Homo sapiens: one gene and its partners. The protein of the gene in region 1 interacts with the protein of each later gene in a pairwise test. Each region holds a gene or a part of one and is shown in the gene's direction. Other genes may lie near its edges.

Region 1 (7,027 bases):
TTCTGTGTACATATGGATAACATAATATTTGACATACATTGCTGCAGATTGTTTCTAGAGAACATTTTTTCTACAATTTGGTAGGCATTTAACAGTCTTTTGCCTCGTGTCCAAACAGAGGCTTAGGAATAAATGGCCTTGGTTGACAGAGAGCTCTGTTCCAATAAGGCATTAAACCTTAGCTCCAAGTTTTCAAACCTGACTCATCAGCAGTCACCTGAGGAGTTGCGCCTCCCCCCACCCCCTTTTAAAATAGAGATTTCCAGTATTTATCAGCAGGTCTTTCTTTTTTTGTCCAGCAAAACCCTCCCTTCTTCTCCCCTGTGTTTTTGTCTCCCTAGGTGCATGAGGCAACATGTTTCAGACCCACTCTTTTGACTTGTAGAATCTAGCCACTGTTATTGTATATGAAACATACGCTCATTTTGATGACTAGCCCCGGAAACACATTTTATTCCTCTTTAGCAGAATATTGAAATACACTACAAAGTAAGACTATATAAACTTCTGTCTGATCACTATGTAATTTGCTCCATTATATTCCATTTTAAATAACTCCATTGTGGATTTGGAGAAGCTTGCATATTTAGAGATTTGACATGTTTTATTTGTTGAAATTGTAATTTTTCTCACAGAATAGTCCTATGACAGCATTTTATTAAACAATAGTGGGTTTATGTCCATCACACCAATATACAAAGATTCAACTTAAGCCATAAATGAAAGGAATAGTTATCTAATTAAAAACTGCTGTTACTAAACCAGAGGCAAAAAAAAATTAGATAACATTTATGTAAGACTTACTGTCCTACTTGAATATGTAATGTTTCAATGTTTCAGCCCAATACCAGTGTTTGACCTGAGAGAGGTAATAAGTAAAATATTATTGAAATAATCAATGAAAATGGAATTACTACTTCAGAGTACTCTAAAATACTTTTTTAAAAAATATCAAAATTCTGTATGCTTTTAATTCTTAAAATTTCTACAAGCTTATTTACTGAAAAATATGCTGGGAAACACCCACATGCACACAGAAACCTGGACACTGAGGTTTTTTTCCCCTTGAAATAGGAATGTTGAAATGTTTTAGATAGGAAATAACTGAAATCTGGCATTTGTAATTAGTATTAGTAATAAAATGTTATGTTTAGGATGGTGCAGATTTCCATCTTATTCATTTCTTCACAGTTGCATTGCATTTGAAGTTTTTGTTGTGACTAACAGCTAAGAGAATGACTGTGAAAAAGAAGGTTTGTCGCAGAGAATGTGAGACTATTTGAGAATGCAGAATTACATCAAGTTCAATTTGGCGGAAAAAAATTGCTATGAGGTTAAAATGTGGAAATCAAAAGGGGCTAGTTAGAAAGGCAAAAAAAAGTTCAGAAAAAATGGTGCATGGATAGGAAGAACAGTCAACTCAAATGAGAATTATTCATTTCTTCTTTTTTTTCTTTAGAAAGGGGAGGGAGGTGATGATGCATATATAGTCAAAGGATGATTGCTGGGAAGGTTAAAGTGCAAGAATATTGTGATGTTGTCTCCTCTAGTAATTTAAATATTTTCCAAAGGGAATAGTGACTGATAGTAAGTGTTTGAAAGAGGAGGATATTTGGCTGCTAGATAGAAGCTAAAAGTGTCTGTAAAAGAGTAAGGGAGGAAGAATATTTCCTCAGGGGAGAGGAATATTTTCTGAGGAGGAAATATTTTATGTTAAACATCAAAACTAATAGGTATCTAGCATACAGCATTGTTAAATACAGAATTGAGTTATATGTAATGCAGAATATTATAAAATTGTTCCTTGTTCAAATAACAAAAGTAGAGAACATGGTAGCTTGAATTTAGCTACATTAGCCAGAGCAAAGAAAAATTTTAAAATGGGAAAAGACAGGCATAGGTAATGTTTATCTTTTTATAAATTTGAGTAAGGAACGCTTAATGAAATGTGATTGATTTGAGAAAGTTGGTCTTGGTTGGCAACCTTTGGTCAGCAGTGCAAGAGAATCAGGATTACAGAGGGGTATAGGCTAAAATCCCCACTCCAACCAGCTAGCCGAAAAGGCTGGCTGTTCTTGAAGTGATTGCGCTTAACATAATTAAGAGTGTACTGTGATTAGATTAAGAGTGTACTTAATTTCTTTCAAATGTAGCTGATGTTCTTTTCTCTCACAAATTTCTTTCAAATGTAGCTGATATTCTTTATTCTTTTCCCAACAGGGATATAGCTAGTGCAATAAAAGAACTTCTTGATACAGTGAATAATGTCTTCAAGAAATATCAATACCAGAACCGCAGGGTACGTTTAGTAGAAGCCTTGCTAGTTGACACCCTAGATGTTGGTTTATGCCTAGTTGTTTTATTGACTTAAAAATAAGATTGATTGTTGGAAATAGTTTTGTGTCATTAACCATTGAGTTTATTCTTGAATTTAAATATGCCTTTTTATTTAAAAGTGAGTACTCCACAATTGCTTATTAGTAATATTCATATAAAGTGCATCCCATATCCTGTGTAATCTCTTGTCCTTGCCTTTGGCTTTTGTGATTATTTCTCTTATTTAGTACTTTATTTCTTATTATATTTTGTGACTGTAGGCACTTGAACACCAAAAGAAAGAATTTGTAAAGTACTCCAAAAGTTTCAGTGATACTCTGAAAACGTATTTTAAAGATGGCAAGTAAGTACTGTAATTTATCCTTTACTTTTAAAATTAAATAGATTATGTGGTTTTATATGATATGAAAACCACATAAATTAAGCCCTTTTATTTTATTATTAGTACTCCAGGCAACTGATAATGAAGGCAGACCATTAACAATAGAAAATGAATGGTTGCTAATCTAGCCATAACTCCTTTCTAGAACAGGAGTTATCAGACGCTTTCTGAAAAGAGCCAGGTAGTAAATATGTTAGATTTGGTGGGCCTGTTGCCGTTATCCACCCATCTCTGCTGTTGTAGTACAGAAACAAGCCATAGACAATGTACAAACAAGGGGGTGTGACTGTGTTTTAATAAAACTTTATACAAAATTCAAATTTCAGTATCTTGAAATAATTTTTACCTGTCATATAATATTCTTCTTTTGTTTTTTAACCATTTAAAAATGTAAAAGCAATTTTAGTTCATTGGCCTACTTTATACACTCCTGAAACAGTGGTTCTCAAACTTTAGTGGCATCAGAGTCATCTGGAGGACTTGTTACAGTCAAATTGCAAATTGCTCGAGGGTCCCACTTCTAGAATTTCTGATTTCGTAGGTCTAGGATGGAGCCTAAGAATTTGCATTTCTTAGAAATTTTCAGGTGATACATTACAGGTCTATTGAGAACTACTGCACTAAAGTTAAAGCAATAGTTGTCAATCCTTTCTGTGCATTAGAGTCACTTGAGGACAGTTTTTAAAAAATTCCCACTGCCTAGGCCCCACCTGCAGAGATTCTGATTCAGTTGGCTGGGAGTGGAGTCAGGGTTTAGATATTTTGTAAAAGTGCCCCAGATGTTTTTAAAGTGCTGTAAGGGTTTTGACCCACTCTCCTGGAAAGAGGCTTTCACAGCATCATTCTATAAAATAGGAAATATACTAAAATGTAAATTGGACATTATTTTTTAATTTATATATAATTGGTTGTGATGCACTATAGAAAACCAAGAGATTTTATATATTTTAACATACATACATGCATACGTATAATGTATAAACTGATGGAAAGTCTGGCCGTATAGGTAGTTATTTGCACTTCAAGTCAAATGTGAGAATTTTTTGAACAAGATTATTTTTTAACAGTGCTTAAAGTCAGAAAAGTAAATAGAGACCTCAATCATTCCATCCTGCTATTCAGGTTTTAAGATCTCTATATTCATGTCACATCATTACAGTATTATTGTAGTAATATTTAAAAATGATAAAAATACATTAGATAGAATTATGTTAATTTTCAGAGTCATTTTTAACAGTTCAAACAGGTTGAAGTATTTACATTTATATTATGAATTAGAGATATCGAGCTAAATTTTATTACTTGTTTTGTGGTGGTGTTCCATACACAGGTTTGTCTAAGGGAAATGCTCCTTGATGACTTAGTTTAATAAGCTGGCATTTGTGTTTTGAAAATAAACTTTTATTTGATTTATGCTAAGCTCAAATAACCAAAAACACATTAAAATAATAATTTACATGATGGGATTATTATTTCTGATTTTAAATTACTATTATGGAATAAGCACAATGAAAGGTAGACATTAATTTAGAGACTAATTTTCATTAATTAATTGAAATTATTTACTCTGCATATGGATTCAGTGTCGTTGCTACTACTTTCTCTCCATTCAGCAGCTTTTTAAAATTCCAGTTCTTTGTGTATCAATAATGTGCTTGAGTTTTATACCTGTTTCCTCAAAACAGAAAATTATTGATAGAACCTGATCTTTAGGCCATCTTTCAGTAGGGGGATGGATTTGCATTGATTCAGCTATTTCTTCCTGGCCCTTCTCTTTTTTTTTTTTTTTTTTTTTTTTGGAGACAGAGTCTTGCTATGTTGCCCAGGCTGGATCTGGGCTCACTGCGACCTCCAGCTCCTGGGTTCAAGCAATTCTCCTGCCTCAGCCTCCCGAGCTGGGATTATAGACACATGCCACCATGCCCGGCTAATTTTTGTATTTTTAGTAGAGACAAGGTTTCACCATGTTGGCCAGGCTGGTCTCACACTCCAAGAGACCTCATGATCCGCCCACCTTGGCCTCCCAAAGTGCTGGGATTACAGGTGCGAGCCACCAGGTCCAGTCCCTGGGCCTTCTCTTTTGAGAAATGTCTAGGATGCGGGTGCATGCTAGATATGATACTAGGAAACTGTTGAGGCCACACAGTGGGACTAGGGCATCATCTCTGAATCCCAGCTGCATGAAGATGAGCCATTAGGAGAATGTGGTGGGGCTCAAAGCCAGTTTTAAAGAATATATTTTTATATGTTGTCAGCTCCCAGATTTTGAAACTGCATGATTATTTTGTTTTAAAAGTATGTTTATAGTAAAAGTAGTTTGTAGTAGTTTGTAGCTTAGAATTTCTACCTTTTTTTAAGGAGATAAAGAGATTGGGATGAATCAGATTGGAAGTAATTAGATTTTTCTTGAGTATTATGCCCATTAATTACAAATTTTGAGATTATGATACTTTGCTGGATTTTACTTGTTAACTTCTATGAAACCACAGCTGGAGACCACATCTGAATCCTCCTTTTGGCCAGTTAACTTGTTCCACCTATAAATGAACTGGGTTGTTGAGGCACTATCATTAGCAGTCCTCCAACATTTTATTACCAGTCAGAACCACCAGGGGGCAGTAATTACTAGATAGTTTAAAATGATGCAAGACTATTATATCCTAAATTGGAATAAAAGTTTTAATAATACTAACTTGTCTTTTTTTTTTTTCTAAAATTGATTCCATTGCTACTGTTAATAGTATAAATCTTAAAAGGGTGAATTTTTTGGATGAAATTAATGCTTATTCTTTTCTTTTTAAACAGGGCAATAAATGTGTTCGTAAGTGCCAACCGACTAATTCATCAAACCAACTTAATACTTCAGACCTTCAAAACTGTGGCCTGAAAGTTGTATATGTTAAGAGATGTACTTCTCAGTGGCAGTATTGAACTGCCTTTATCTGTAAATTTTAAAGTTTGACTGTATAAATTATCAGTCCCTCCTGAAGGGATCTAATCCAGGATGTTGAATGGGATTATTGCCATCTTACACCATATTTTTGTAAAATGTAGCTTAATCATAATCTCACACTGAAGATTTTGCATCACTTTTGCTATTATCATTCTTTTAAGAATTATAAGCCAAAAGAATTTACGCCTTAATGTGTCATTATATAACATTCCTTAAAAGAATTGTAAATATTGGTGTTTGTTTCTGACATTTTAACTTGAAAGCGATATGCTGCAAGATAATGTATTTAACAATATTTGGTGGCAAATATTCAATAAATAGTTTACATCTGTTAAACATTTCTTTACTTGAAAAAATGCATATATATATGTGTGTATATATATATATATATATATATATATGAACAGAAGACCAAGACAACTTGGTGTAATGTCTAAAAAACTTCTAATGGGAGCTTATCAGCAGTTTATCAAATAATAAAGCAAGAATTTCTATTTTTGTCCTTAATCACTTTGGACACAGAGTAGTCAATGGAAATATTTTTGTTAATTACTTATAAGGTACTGAGTATTTTTATATGATTTCCAACCTGTTTTAAACGACTTATGAGTAAGAGATAGCATTTTCTAGTGTTTTTGCACTATAATGCCACTTTTTGAACTCTTGTGACAAATGTAGATTTGACTCTTAAAAATTAAGCCTTTCGTATACTGGGCCCTCATAAGCTTTGCACAATTTTTTCCCAAAAAATAGCCACAATTAATAGTAATTTGAAGCTATATCAACGGTTGGATTGAAATTGTCATGAGTGTTAATATTATATACACTCTTCAACTAGGTACAGTTTTATTTCACCATAGAGAAGTTTTAAGGAAATTATGTATCAAGTGTTCATGTTAAGTGGTTTCATTTTTCAATTATAAAATAAAGGGAAAAAATCAGAATTTGCTTATCTTTTATAAAGATTTTAGACGTTAAACTAAGTTTCTGTTGACAGTATATTTTTTTGCTGTTATGCAACTCAAGTTATTTTATTTTTTCTCCATTTTAAAAAACAGATTTTTAAAGAATTATCATTGGCACCATAAAAGTAGAACATCCTGTTAAATGTAAATGAAAATATGTTGAAAGGAGCAAAAAAAAATAGGCAATTAGATGAAAATTGGATGAAATCTCTTAATTAATGAACATTTTACTGACCTGATTTTTTTTTTTCTTCAAAGATATGTAGCCAGTAAGACAAATAGAATGCTGATCTTTATTTATTTTTGGCATAAACTATCATTCACTCTTGGAGGTAGATGGGTGATCATTTGCCGAATAGACTTGTGGATATATGAAGAAAAAAGACACTG
Region 2 (7,059 bases), on another chromosome or scaffold:
TTTTCAGGTATACAGAAATAGTTGATGAATTCATTAATAGAAGGATGGGGAGGAAGGAGAAGAAGGGTGATGACTGAGGAGTTGTCTCTCTCATAAATTCCCTTTGCGCGAACGAGCAGGACCAAGGGGAGCCTTCCCACATGCCCTTTCTTCCATCTCTTGCCTCTTGGATCTGAGAATCCACACACGCACCAAAAAATATTTTTAAAAAACAGAAACAGAGGAGTATTGGTGAGCTTAAGTGATGATACATAGGAAATAATCTGAAAGCTAGTATCTAGTTGTCATGAAATAATTGTTCTCAGAGAAACTTTAATGTGTTACGAAAATAAATTATTCTGGTTTATTGCCTGCATCACATGGCTGAGACTAACGTGTTCAAAATTTACCACCACTGAAAACAATTCCATTACTTACAAAGGGTAATATCTTTAGGTTGAAAAGGCTAAACCCCTCTCCTTTTAGTTCTCAAAGAAAATGTAGAGAAGTTAATAAATATTTGCAAAAAAGCATTTCAAATAAATAGAGTTTGTTTAAATATCTTCTTTCCTAGAGCCAAGAACACAACAGTCAACACTGTATGCTTGCTATGCCCAAGGCATTATGCTAGATCCTGGAATGATTTGAAAAGTCACGCATGACTCCTGCCATCCAGAACCCTACAGTCTAGAAGAGACACAGCTAAACCAGATGAGACTGATTTCAAAGTTAGTAAGAGTGAGAGCCAGGTGCTGAGGATACACTACAGAGGAGCAATTAACACTACCTGAATATCGAAAAGGTTGACCCAGAGGAGATAGAGCTGAGGCTAGAAGAATAATTAGGACTTAGCTGTCAATGTCAGAGAGACATTTCAGGTAAAGGAAGCTGCATGAGCAAAAATGGGCATTGAAGCATATTTCAGGCGACTTCAAATGCTGTTGGGATTTTAGACTTTATTCAGTAGTCAATAGTGTCACTGAAAGCCAGGGGCCCAGCCTAGGTCCTGTTGCTCACTACACAGAAAGCCAATCACTAAGGCAATGAGTATTGTCAGGGAAGAAGGCTTTATTATGGGTGATATCAGCCAGAGACAGGAGACAAGACTCAAATCTGAATCTCCCCTGGCTAAAGTTGGGGTTTATATGGGGGGAGAAAACAGGCAGGGCAAGGAAGAGGAGTTGCTCAATAGGCAGCAGGTGTCTAGCATCTCACTGTAACCTCCTATAGGAAAACAGGAATTAGGGAGGGTTAAGGAAGAGGAATTGGTCAACAGGCAGCAGGTGTAAGTTTCTCAAGCTTCAGTGCTATGGGCATTTGGCTTGTTGGAAAATTGCGCTGGTTTCAACAGGGAGCTGGGAAAAAAAGTTTTGGGGAAGGGCAGTTACTTTGTCAGATGGCTTTCAGATGGAAAAGATCAGAAGCTGGGAGACCAGTAAAGACCATGGCCATGATCTCAGTTAGAAAGTGTTAGAACCTGATCTTAGAACCTGCTTAGAGTAGGGGCAATTCAAGATTTATTTCAGGGCTTAATGGATAGAGGTGTTTGATGAAGGGGAGGGAAAACTCAAATAATTCCAGTTCCAATTGGAATTGAGTAGATAGAATTACAAATGTAAAGTGAACAGGGGATGAAAGTGGGGGAAAATCACAAAACAAACTTGGACCTAGAGAGTTTAAAAGTAAGACATCCATCTAGCCCATTAGAAATAGTCTATCTATCCCATGGAGAAAACTCAAATAAAAACCCACTCAGTTCTTTCTTTCTCAGTAAGGAGATTGCAATGGATTGCAAGGAGCCCTTACTGCAATGCCTAATATGGTGTGGGGAGTTTTTTGGGCTATAACATAAACGGATACCATAATGTTTTTAATGTTGTTTGTTTTTTAGAACTCTTTCACAAATTTGGAACCATGTTGATAAATCCACTCAAAAAAATTAGCTTTCCTATCTTTCATGACTCATTGGCTGGGAACAATTTACATGTCAGTGAAAACATGGGCACACCTAAAAAATGAAGTGAATCATGGTGTTTTCACCCTGGTGTGCATCAAGAAACCATAGGTTTTTCTTCCATATGTTTTACAAGGGCCCCTCAGATCTCAATTTGGCATTCCAAGAGATCTGCAAGAAGTACAGATTACACGTTGTATGGACACATGGAGGGTTCAGTTTCAGTGTATCAACATGACAGATTACATAAAACTGGTAATCTAGGGATACAAATAAAAGCAGCACCTCTAGCTTTATAGAATGCCAGCCCTTACTATTTAATAGATGAGGGGAACTTCGCCAGCTACCTGTGCATATTCAGAGCAACGGTTCGCAAACTGGAGTAGGTACCACTTGCTAAAACACAGATTTCTTCACCCTCCCTCCCCAACTATTTCTGAATCAATACGTCTGGGGTGGGTCCCAAGAATTTGCATTTTTACTACATTCTCTCAGATTATGCCGATGCTATTAGTCTAGGAACTGCACTTTAAAATCTAAGGCAGGCTGGGGCGCGCGGTGGCTCAGCTTGCAATCCCAGCACTTTGGGAGGCCGAGGCGAGCGGATTGCTTAACCTCAGGAGTTCAAGACCAGCCTGGGCAAGTTTAGGAGAGCCCACCCCCACCCTAGTCTCCACAAAAATAATAATAATAATAGTAATAATAATAATAATAATACAAAAATTAGCCGAGCATGGTAGCATGAGCCTGTAGCCCCAGGCACTCCAGAGGCTGAGGTGGGAGGATCCCTTGATCCCCAGAGGAGGAGGTTGCAGTAAGCTGAGATCGCATCACACTCCAGCCTGTGTGCAACAGCCAGACCCTGTCTCAAATAATAATAAATAAATAAATAAAATGAAACCCAATACAAATACCAACCCCTTTTTCGACAGATAACCTACTTGATAAATGTATCAATATCCTGTAGACAATTAAGTGTCGACTATAAGTTGGACATGAGTGCCGTTCATTGTGACAAAGGATGTAAAACCACATATAACTTCCTGCAAAAATCTAACACTTTACAGCGTGCAATCCCAGCACTGCAAAATTAGAAGGATTCAAAAAATGGAGTGTTCAAATTCTCAAAAGCCTGGCAAATATCATGTGAATGGGGCTGGCATCATTAAAGTAGATACATTGAAAACCCAAGGACACTATGTCCATCCTTAGATAATACTCTGTCCAGATGCCTCTCCAATATCCTATTTTATTCTCTTGCTGGATGAGTTGAAAAGAAGAGAGAAGAGGGTAAGCTAGGTGGCGCAGTTGCTTAACACTTTTTTTGGCAAGCTCAGCATTTGCTTTGGAGCACAGGTGAAAAGAATGTCCAGTCCTTAAGCAGAGTCAGTTCTCCACCCGCCTTAGGTATATGGATTGTAACAGCTACGAATGTGGAACTCAGTAGATTGGATGCAGTCTTGTGGCCAATGCCCTAAGACCTCAGGAAAAGAAAGGGATGGAGGGGGAGTGGGTGAGGAGGGGACGGGGAACCAGGAGTTCATTGAACTCCCCCTGGGGCCTTTAGGGTGCAGGCGAGTGTGTGCAACTTCCCTGGTTTTTATCGTGGTGGTGGCGCCCCCGCTGTTTCTAGGTCCATGTAGCTCATACAGGGCTGGCCATGGAACTCACAGCAGGTCTAGGCGGCGAATGCCAGAAATAAGGAGGAAACTGAAAAATGCCAAGTTCTCGGGGTTTGGGAGTACACAACTATTTGCCAGCGGGTGCATTTGTTTTGTGTATCCCCGTACTCCAGTCCCTTGATCATAGGAAGCTCCCTTCTCTCCAGCGCAACATTGGAGTAAGCACCCCGGAGTTTCCCGTGATGGCAGGCGGTTGGCGCGGTCGTTTGTGCTCAGAGGCCAACAAGCGCGTGGATTTTCTGCTTCAGTGCGCCCGGGACTGCCACCCCGGCCCCGGGGATGTCGGACATCGTACTCCAGGGTTTCGAGCCCTAGCCCCGCCGCATCCTCGGGGCGTGCAGGTAAAGGGTTACGCGTGTCGGGAAGGCTCACCCGCAGCCCGGGCCACGTGACGCGCGGGCCCAATGACAGCGCTGGGGCGGCCGCTGCGAGCTCGGCGGGCTCAGGGCAGCGCGGAGCCGCTAGCGTCTCCCGGCGCGGCTGCCCGAGGCCGGCGAAGCCATGGGCGCCGGGACCCCGCCGCCGCCGCCGCCGCCGCCGTCTGGCCCCAGGTAGGGACAATCCCCCGCCCCGCGCGCGCAAAGAGGGCTTTAGTCCTGCGGAACTTGGCTTTGGGGCGAGCTTTCCCCCACTTCTCTCCGAGTCGCCTACTTTTAAGTTTAATTTCTTGATTTGCTTTTGCCCTGAAAAAAAAAATTAGAGACGCAATTCAAAGTTTGATGACTTCGGGAAAAGTCACGTAATTCAACAAAGGGGCTCTAAAAGGGGCAAAACTCGGGTGGGGGGAGGCGGACTTTTACAGATTCCCAAAACCAAAGACCAAGGCGTTTGTAAAGCTTGGCGTTTAATTGGTTGTGTGAAACATTTTTGCTTTTAAATCCCTAACTAATGAACTTTCAACGGTGCATGCGAACTTGAAAAAACTGCAAGAGATTTTACCTTAGATCTGTGCCCTCCTCCCCCATTTTAAGTATGTTTTTTAATAAAAAGGAAATGGAATGTGACCTCTGCTGTTTCTTTGAAATGCCCTTGGGTCCCGGTATTTGCCCCCCAGGGGTGCTGGCGGCCTGGGCAGTGGGTAGGGGTGGGGGAAGAGGTCAGGGTGCCAGGAGGCCTCACGTAGTGAAAAGAGGGTGCCAGGTGCAAACAGTTAAATAGTCACAAACTGTTTGCTAAATATTTAATAATTAGGCAAGCATCTCCCAGCTTGGTTACTTAGGTTGCATTGACCTTGGCAGCCCTGATGAGGCGAGATTTTCACAAAGTACTGGTGAAGAATTTTTCCGGTGATAAAAGGCAAGGATCAATGCTTTTTACCCCAGCATGGCAATTGACCTTAAAAACAAAATTAAAACTCCCTGTGATGACTTAGTACATTTTATGTTACTTTCCATGGCAGCATAGATACCTGCCCCATGATGGATATTTGCCCTGTGAATTTAGAGAAAGTTTGTGCTCCAGAGGTGGTTCAAATCATTGAAGAATAGGGCGTTTATTTTCTTCCTGTCACTATTTATGGGAAAGAATTACGGATGGTCCTTCTTGCCCTGGTTTGTGGATGTCCTTGGTGGTTGCAATCAAGCAAGCTCTTATGAGGAATAATATCTGGAGAAAAGAAGAGAAGCATTTGAGAGTTGAATGAGAAAGAAATGGAAAGCGGTTACTGCTTTTAAACATAATAGAGTCTATATTTGTTGCCTACCCCTCCCCCTTCCCCATTTAATCCTTCAGTTGATACTATTTTAGGAAGGATAAGACAGATGTTAAAGATCATAGACCACCTTACTGGTCCCAGCTGTGAAACACTGTCAGGAGGCAGATAATTGAAACAAGGTACATAATTGAAACAATTTGAAGCTCAAAGGTAAAGTTAAGTTCTGGAGTTATTTGTATTTCCCTAAAGTGTGAAGAGTCAGCTAACAGCAAGCTGCCTGGGTCACTGAGCAGAAATGGAACAGATGCTGAGACAGGAAGGGAAGGTGTGGCTTACTTCTCTTCTTGGCCCATTCTGTGTCTATCCTCTGATCCTGCTCCGTGCATTTATTCAGCAAGTATGATCTTGGTCCTCAATGGCTCCGGAGATTTAGATAAATAATGATACCTAAAGAGAAATAGGGCCAATCTTTCCTGTGTTTCAAAGAGCTTTTTGGATATCTGGGATTGAAGACAAAACCTTGCATACCAACTCAACACGTTCCATTATCCTAAACATGGAATGATTCCCTTGACGTCCCACCCAGACCCTCTCTGAGCCGGAAATACAACCTGGCTAAGCTCCGGCCAGAATCCATTTGCAGCCCAAGGGCAGAGCACAGGTAGGGCCGGCCCCTTTCCTCCTAGAACAGCCCGCTCTTGGTGCCCGGAAGCCCATTCACGGTGCTTCTTGGAATAGACGCCAGTTTCCAAATAATTGAATACCAGCCTTCCAGTAGCTAGGTTTCCTCTCCCTAGACTGTGTTTCACATTCCCCTAGTTACACAATTTTTCTGGTAACCCTGAATCTTGGGATCTTTTACAGTCTTGGTTAAATAGTAACTAGTACCTATGTCCTGCTTTTCTTTCTTGGTCATTAGGCAGATTTTCTTTTTGGTCATTCTTTTTGGTCATTAGATTACATGCTTACAGAGAGACTTTGTAGGTGTGTAGAAAAGAGTTGAGTTAAAGGGGTCATCCTAGGGGAAGCCGACTTGGAGTCTTCACCTATGTGCAGGTCAGATGTAGTCTTTCTCGAGTGCCTGCTCTTAACCATTGAGCCATCCTGTGTCTCCAGTTGTAGCCTTTCTTACTCTGACTGCTATTTAAGAGAATAAACTGAAAATGAAATCGCTCATCTACTTGTACCCTTTTCACCCGAGAATATCATAGTCCCACAGAGGTTAGTTAAAATCTTCAGGACTGTAGATTATCAAATAATCCTTTCCTAAAACATACGTAAAACACCAAGCCAATGAATACGTGTCCTGAAACAGAAAATTAAAACTCTGACTCAGTGTTGTCAGGCATTGTAGAAAAGATGTTCCAGAGCTGCAATGAATATTAACAAATGACAAAAGGAATATTGTATCTCACTCAAACTTTATCAGAAGTGCTGAACTCTGTTCTGTTCAGTGTACAAGTGGTTCTACAAAATTTAATAAAACCCTGACCTGGCCTTGGAGACATCATGTGCGTAGACCCAGAGACACCAGAGAGTCGATGAGTTTCTGGGGACACAGTCCTTGTCTTCAGAGATCCCAATATCTTGGGAGAAACCATTGAAGGATCTTAAGCACAGCAGATCTCTATTTTAGAGAGTTCATGCAGGCTGCAATGAGAATGAAACAGGAAAGATACAACCAAGACCAAAGGCAGCTGCGGCAAAAATTTAAATTAGAGGAGAGAGAGAAGTGAACTGATTCGAAAGATAGTTAAAGAAGCACTGGTATTTAAGATTTTAACTGTAAG
Region 3 (7,027 bases), on another chromosome or scaffold:
CCGCCTCGGCCTCCCAAAGTGCTGGGATTATAGGCGTGAGCCACTGTGCCCGGCCTGGTTCAATCCACTTTTAATATTTACATTATTACGACTGTATAAGTAGTATTCATAGCTGAGCCTAATGCGTAACGATTATGTTTCCTTTCTTGCCCATTTTTTTTGCTTATGTCATTAAAGACTGTCTTTTTTGTTTGTTTGTTTGCTTTCAATGTATTCTCACATGCTCTGACAGAAGAATAAATCTCCTAGCTATACTGAAACACACCGATAACTTGCTGGTTTGTGTCATGGATTCTTCCTTCTGGATGCTAGTCCACTCTGGACACTTGTTCTCCAGTCCTGTTGCGTTCCTGATATTTGCTATTTCCCATTCCCATCATCCTGATAATTTCCTTTACATCTCTCCTGTATCGATTCTCTGTTTGCTGGATCTCATGTCCTCTTTTTTGGTGCACGCCTTTGTTTTCCTGAAGCATGTCCTTGCATAGCCTCCTAAGTAAGGACCCATAGGAGAAAATTATTTGGACATATTTGAAAAGGTCTTTATCATACACTTACATTCATTTGATGGTTTGACTGAGTATAGAATTTTTAGTATCTCTCATTCATACTCTGCTAACATCTAAGTATTCCTGCCAAAATAGCCACTCTGTTCTGATTCCCAATCCTTTGTATTGTATGACCTCTTTCCCTGTTTTTTGTTTTGTTTTGTTTCATTTTTGTTGTTGTTGTTGTTCATTAGAAGCTTATAAGGATCATTATTTTATTCTCAGTAACCTGAAATTTCACAGTGATGTATCTTGTCATATGAATCTAGACACCGGGCAGCTCTTTAAAGCTGGCAACTAGTACCTTCACTTTGGAGAAGTTGACTTATATTACTTTTTTGATACTTTCCATTACAATGTTTTTTCTATTCCACATTTTTTTAAAACTCTTGTTATTCAGATGTTGGACTTCTTGTATTAAGTCTCTAATTTTTTATGTGTTGCTTTATTTTTTTCCCCCCCATTTCGTTTTCTTAAATTTAGCTTTCTCGGGGGTTCTCTGTTTTATCTTGTGGATTTAAAAATTTCTGTTGCGTTATTTTTGATTTATGAAGTCTTTTTGTTTGTTCATTTTTTCATAGCACTCTGTTTATGTTTCACAGATGCTTTTTTTTTTTTTTTTTTTTAGACAGAGTCTCACTGTCTCCCAGGCTGGAGTGCAGTGACACTATCTCGGCTCATTGCAAGCTCTGCCTCCCGGGTTCACACCATTCTCCTGCCTCAGCCTCCCGAGTAGCTGGGACTACAGGCGCCCGCCACCATGCCCGGCTAATTTTTTGTATTTTTAGTAGAGACGGGATTTCACTGTGTTAGCCAGGATGGCCTTAATCTCCTGACCTCATGATCCACCTGCCTCAGCCTCCTAAAGTGCAGGGATTACAGACGTGAGCCACCGCGCCTGGCCTTTTTTTTTTTTTTTTTTTTTTTGAGATGGAGTCTCGCTCTGTTGCCCAGGCTGGAGTGCAATGGTGCAATCTCAGCTCACTGCAACCTCTGCCTCCCGGGTTCAAGCAATTCTCCTGCCTCAGCCTCCTGAGTAGCTGGGATTACAAACGTGCTCTACCACACCTGGCTAATTTTTATTTTATTTATTTATTTATTTTTTAAATAAAGACAGGTTTTCACCATGTTGACCAGGCTGATCTCAAACTCCTGACCTCAAGTGATCCACCTGCCTTGGCCTCCCAAAGTGCTGGGATGACAGGCGTGAGCCACCCCACCTGGCCAATTTTAAAAAAATCTAGGCCAGGCTCGGTGGCTCACGCCTGTCATCCCAGCACTTTGGGAGGCTGAGGTGGGCAGATCGTGAGGTCAGGAGATCGAGACCATCCTGGGTACCTGGGTAACATAGTGAAACCCTGTCTCTACTAAAAAAAAAAAAAAAAAAAAAAAAAAATTAGCGGGGCGTGGTGGCGCGTGCCTGTAATCCCAGCTACTCGGGAGGCTGAGGCAGGAGAATCACTTGAACCTGGGAGGCGGAGGTTGCAGTGAGCTGAGATTGTGTCACTGCACTCCAGCCTGGCAACAAAGCTAGACTCCGTCTCCAAAAAAAAAAAAAAAAAGAAAAGAAAAAATATATGTGAGGATATCATTGTTTTCTTTTAATTTTTTTTTCTCCTTCCCATACTATCTCTTATTTCCTTCAGATTTCTCTCTACCTGCTAGTTTGTTTGGTATAACTGTTATGTTGGGGGCTTTCCTCAGATGTGAGGTGACCCTTGTTTGTCTGCCCATTTTTAACAGAAAACACCAAAAAGCCAATGGAAGAGGCCGGGTGCGGTGGCTCACGCCTGTAATCCCAGCACTTTGGGAGGCCAAGGCAGGCGGATCACTTGAGGTCAGGAGTTTGAGACCAGCCTGGCCAACCTGGTGAAACCCCGTCTCTACTAAAAATACAAAAATTGGCTGGGTGTGGTGGCACGTGCCTGTAATCCCAGCTACTCGGGAGGCTGAAGCAAGAGAATCACTTGAACCCAGGAGGCAGAGGTTGCAGTGAGCCAAGATTACGAGATTCCATCTCAAAAAAAAAAGCCAGTTGGAGAATCTGTGTGTACATAAGGGGCTTGGTCCCAGACTCTATGTAGAGTTAAGGAATTCCCACCTGTCAGAATCTGCAGGTTTTTCATCTCATACTGGCCATTTTCCTGAAAGAGGAATCGTCCTCATTTCCTAACTGGATGGGGGATAGGGGTGCAGGTACAGAGTTGATTCCTAGAGTCTGAAAAGCTTCCTCTGGGGAAAGAGAGTTGGGGGAAATCTTGTATTTTATATACAGACTTTTACTTAATCCCCACCCTCAGCTGTGTGCAGTGTTCTCAGATATAGTCCTCTGGTCAACCTCTGCAGAAGGGAAACCTCTAGCCTGCTGAAAGTTGTAACTGTTAAAGGCTTGTAACTGATTCTCCTATTTTAGCCCCACCAGCCCCTCTACCTTTAGATGTACATGAACATTCCCAAAATTCTACCAAGGGAATCGGCCTTTGCATTACAATTGGTAAAATGTTGTTGCCCTTTGACCTCTGTTGTCTGCTGTCATCTTTACCTAGCCTACTTTTTAGGTATATATACCCGCTAAAAAAAAAAAGTAACTATTATTTGGTGGTTTACAAAGAACCAGTAATAAAACACAATTGTTAAATGTTTTATTTTTAAGTGGAAGTCTTTTTTTTTTTTTTTTTCGAGACAAGGTCTTGTTCTGTCACCCAGGCTGGAGTGCAGTGGCACAAACACAGCTCACTGCAACCTCAGCCTCCTGGGCTCACGTGATCCTCCCGTGAACTTAGCCTCCCAGGTAGCTGGGACTACAGACGTGCCTAATTTTCTTTTTCGTTCTTTCTTTGTTTGGCAGAGATGGGGTCTCACTAAGTTGCCTAGGCTTGTCTCAAACTCCTGGGCTCAAGCTCAGCCTCCTAAAGTGCTGAGATTACAGGCATGAACCACTGCACTTAGCCAAATTGGAAGTCTTAATTAGGAAGAATTATAGTTCAAATCTGTATGTTATATAAAAAAATACAGTACAACAGTATAAAATGAAAAGTAAAAAGTCCTTATTCTCTGCTATCCCCATTTAACCACTATTTATACATCTTGTGAATCCTAGAAATTTTCTATGTGTGTGTATATTTGTTTATGTGGATTTGTGTATGCTTCACTATCTTGATTGCTCTGAACTGAAACTCATTTTTCATCATTTGCTTCTAACATCTATTATTAATGTCTTTTCTAGTAGACTGATCTTTCAAGATCAGGGACTCCATTTTGTTCATGGATACATGACTCCCGTAGTGTCTGGTACATACAGGTTTTCCTTTCCTGCCTCAGCCTCCCTAGTAGCTGGGACTACAGGTGTGCGCCACCAGACCCAGCTAATTTTTGTATTTTTAGTAGACACAGAGTTTCACCATGTTGGCCAGGCTGGTCTTGAACTCCTGACCTCAAGTAATCAGCCCACCTTGGCCCCCCAAAGTGCTGGGATTACAGGCGTGAGCCACTGCTCCTGGCCTCGGTTTTTCATATTTGTTGAATGACTGAATGCAGAAGCTCGGGTTAGGGAAAGCAGTTTTAGAGGCTGTGTCCCCAAAACCAGGTTTCCCAAGGCTTGAAAGTGCTATTCCTTTCTTGAGTTATGCCAAAATGCTGATCCTCTCCATTTTATTATTTAGACAAAAAGGTTGGGGAGAAGCCATTTTCAGGGGAGGGGAACATGCCATCAGCAAAAATTAATGTGAAGGAACATATTTCAAGCAGGGATAGTCTCCAGAATGAAAGAGAGGGGAACAAAAACAAAAATTAGCACCCATGCTGTCTCACATATGGGCCTCAGAACAGAGAAGTCTGTCTCTGCTTATCATGGTAAGAAAGGAATGTTTTTCACTTTTTGTCATGTCCTTTGATTAGTTAATGTCTTTATTTAGGTATGTAGGGCCCCTGTGTTTTCAGAATTCTATTGGCCACTTTTTTTTTCTTTTTTTTTTTTGCCTGAGGTTAATGTTTACAAAATTCAGAATTAAATTTTGTATTGCCTTTCCCCTAGTGTTTTACATTTCTCAATAATAGGAACTTAATTTGTCCTGGGGTTCTTTTCTCTTTTTCTAGAGTACAAATCAAACGTCTTCTTTTGAAATTTAATACTGGTTTAAAATATAATTTAGTTGGCAGAAGTCAGCTGAGCTATAGTCTATTTGGATCTTTTCCTAATATTAGTGGAATTTCTTAGGTTGAGAGGACTAGGAAGGGAAAACTGATTTTAAGATTGGTTTTGGGATTCCTGAAATAGGTTTATGACTTGTTTTTCAGCAAGCACTGACACAATATTCTGGTTGTTTTCTTTAAACTGCTTTGGAAAGGTGTCAAAAACTGCTGTTCATCTTCTTTGCAACTATAAAAGTTAGCTAAAAACTGTAACCTGAGTCAGACAGTCTTTCTGTGTGCCTCATATCTATTGGATATTCCAATCCTCTCATTTGTTTTGCTTTTATAGGAAGCTGCTTCCAAGCTTAAAAACTAAGAAGCCTCGAGAACTTGTGCTAGTGATTGGAACAGGCATTAGTGCTGCAGTTGCGCCCCAAGTTCCAGCCCTCAAATCCTGGAAGGGGTTAATTCAGGCCTTACTGGATGCTGCCATTGATTTTGATCTTTTAGAAGATGAGGAGAGCAAAAAGTTTCAGAAATGTCTCCATGAAGACAAGAACCTGGTCCATGTTGCCCATGACCTTATCCAGAAACTCTCTCCTGTGAGTACCCTAGTATGTGCCACAGTATTTGGAATTTCCTAAAATTTAACTATCACAACTAGCATGATTTGGCTGTCAAAACTAGCATGCCAAATGTAACAGGGATATTCATTTACAGCTTGTAGGTTTCCATAACATTTGACTCTTCTGCGCAATGTCTGTTTATGGACCCTACTCAGGACAGTTGTCTTAACCCCATTTCACTGTGTGTCTATGAGAGAGAAATGATGTTGAGGACTTTATATGTACAAATTACCACTGTGTTTTGAATTTATTTTTTTCCTGCATCACTACTATAAAAGCTGTGTTCTGTGGCATCCATGCCTTGTATGGAATCCCACAAAGATTGGAGATAATTTTATCATTTTATACATGAAACAAAACCAGTTTTTAGTGTTCTTTTTAGAGGTAATAAGTCAAAATATTTAGAAGGAATTGCACCTTATTTTACCAAACTGAGTTGGATAAAAGGACTCCCTGTCTTGCTTTGTCTGAAAATTTATTTATTTATTTATTTATTTTTTGATGGAATCTTCTTCTTGTCACCCAGGCTGAAGTTCAGTGGTTCGATCTCGCCTCATGGCAGCCTCCGCCTCCTGGGTTCAAGCGATTCTCCTGTCTCAGCCTCCTGAGTAGGTGGGATTACAGGCATGTGCCACCATGCCCAGCTAATTTTTGTATTTTTAGTAGAGACAGGGTTTTGCCATGTTGGTCAAGCTGGTCTCGAACTTCTGACCTCAAGTGATCTGCCCACCTCAGCCTCACAAAGTGCTGGGATTATAGGCATGAGCCACTGCACCCAGCCTGTTTTAAAATCTTAAAAATCAGGCTTCTAGGGCCAGGCGTGGTGGGCACCTGTAATCCCAGCTGCTCAGGAGGCTGAGGCAGGAGAATGGCTTGAACCCGGGAGGTGGAGGTTGCACTGAGTTGCGGTCGCGCCACTGCACTCCAGCCTGGGCGACAGAGGAAGACTCCGTCTCAAAAAAAAAAAAAAAAAAAGGAATTAATGGGGTTTTAAAGAGTTCATGGAATCTCCATACACTTTATAAAAATTAAAAATGGATCAAAGACCTAAATATGATACCTAAAACTGTAAAACTCTTAGAAGAAAATACAGATTTAAAATTTCATGACTGGATCTGGCAGTGGTTTTTTAGACATGACACCAAAAATGCAAAAAACTAAAGTAAAAAAAAATATAGATAAACTGGACTTCTCCAAAGTTAAAAACTGTTAGGCTGAAAGGACACTGTCAAGAAAGTGAGCCGGGGATGGTGGCTCATGCCTATAATCCCAGAACTTTGGGAGGCCAAGGCAGGAGAACTGCTTGAGGGCATGAGTTCAAGACCAGCCTGGACAACATAGTGAGACCCTGTCTCTACCAAAAGAAAAAAAAAAGTGAAAAGACAGCTTCCAGAATGAGAAAATGTTAGCAAATCACATATCTCATAGGCGTATAATATCCAGAATCTATAAAGAACTACTGTAACTTAATAAAGGCTAATAATTCAATTTTAAAATAACGATGTAGTTGAATAGACATTTCTCCAAAGAAGATACACAAACGGCCAATAAGTGCATACGAAAAGATGTTCAGCGTCATTAGTCATTAGGAAAATACAAATCAAAACCACAACAAGGTGCCATTTCACACCCGCTGGCATGACTAGAATCAAGAAGACAATAATAAGTGTTATTAAGGATGTGGAGAAATTGGAACCTTTGTGGGAATGTAAAGTGATGCAG

Evidence for each region. The genes of interacting proteins can lie anywhere in the genome.
Region 2: the proteins of PDCD10 (region 1) and PGCKA1 interact in binary tests that used the Homo sapiens proteins (3 or more experiments, as listed by UniProt).
Region 3: the proteins of PDCD10 (region 1) and FAM118B interact in binary tests that used the Homo sapiens proteins (3 or more experiments, as listed by UniProt).

Annotation. Positions count from the first base shown.
Region 1 is NC_000003.12:167,682,887-167,689,913, reverse strand, and holds the end of PDCD10 (programmed cell death protein 10), read left to right. Parts: intron 1-2,220; coding exon 2,221-2,299; intron 2,300-2,597; coding exon 2,598-2,680; intron 2,681-5,524; coding exon 5,525-5,606; 3' UTR 5,607-6,616; downstream 6,617-7,027. UniProt on the Homo sapiens protein: Promotes cell proliferation. Modulates apoptotic pathways. Increases mitogen-activated protein kinase activity and STK26 activity. Important for cell migration, and for normal structure and assembly of the Golgi complex.
Region 2 is NC_000004.12:37,449,875-37,456,933, forward strand, and holds the start of PGCKA1 (PDCD10 and GCKIII kinases-associated protein 1), read left to right. Parts: upstream 1-4,050; 5' UTR 4,051-4,166; intron 4,167-4,442; exon of another isoform or gene 4,443-5,220; intron 5,221-5,605; exon of another isoform or gene 5,606-7,059. UniProt on the Homo sapiens protein: Acts as a tumor suppressor. Acts as a tumor suppressor for colorectal cancer cell proliferation by targeting KEAP1/USP17/ELK1/CDK6 axis.
Region 3 is NC_000011.10:126,235,764-126,242,790, forward strand, and holds part of FAM118B (protein FAM118B), read left to right. Parts: intron 1-166; exon of another isoform or gene 167-308; coding exon of another isoform or gene 309-492; intron 493-5,028; coding exon 5,029-5,281; intron 5,282-7,027. Other genes in the region: SRPRA (signal recognition particle receptor subunit alpha), read right to left, coding at 309-492. UniProt on the Homo sapiens protein: May play a role in Cajal bodies formation.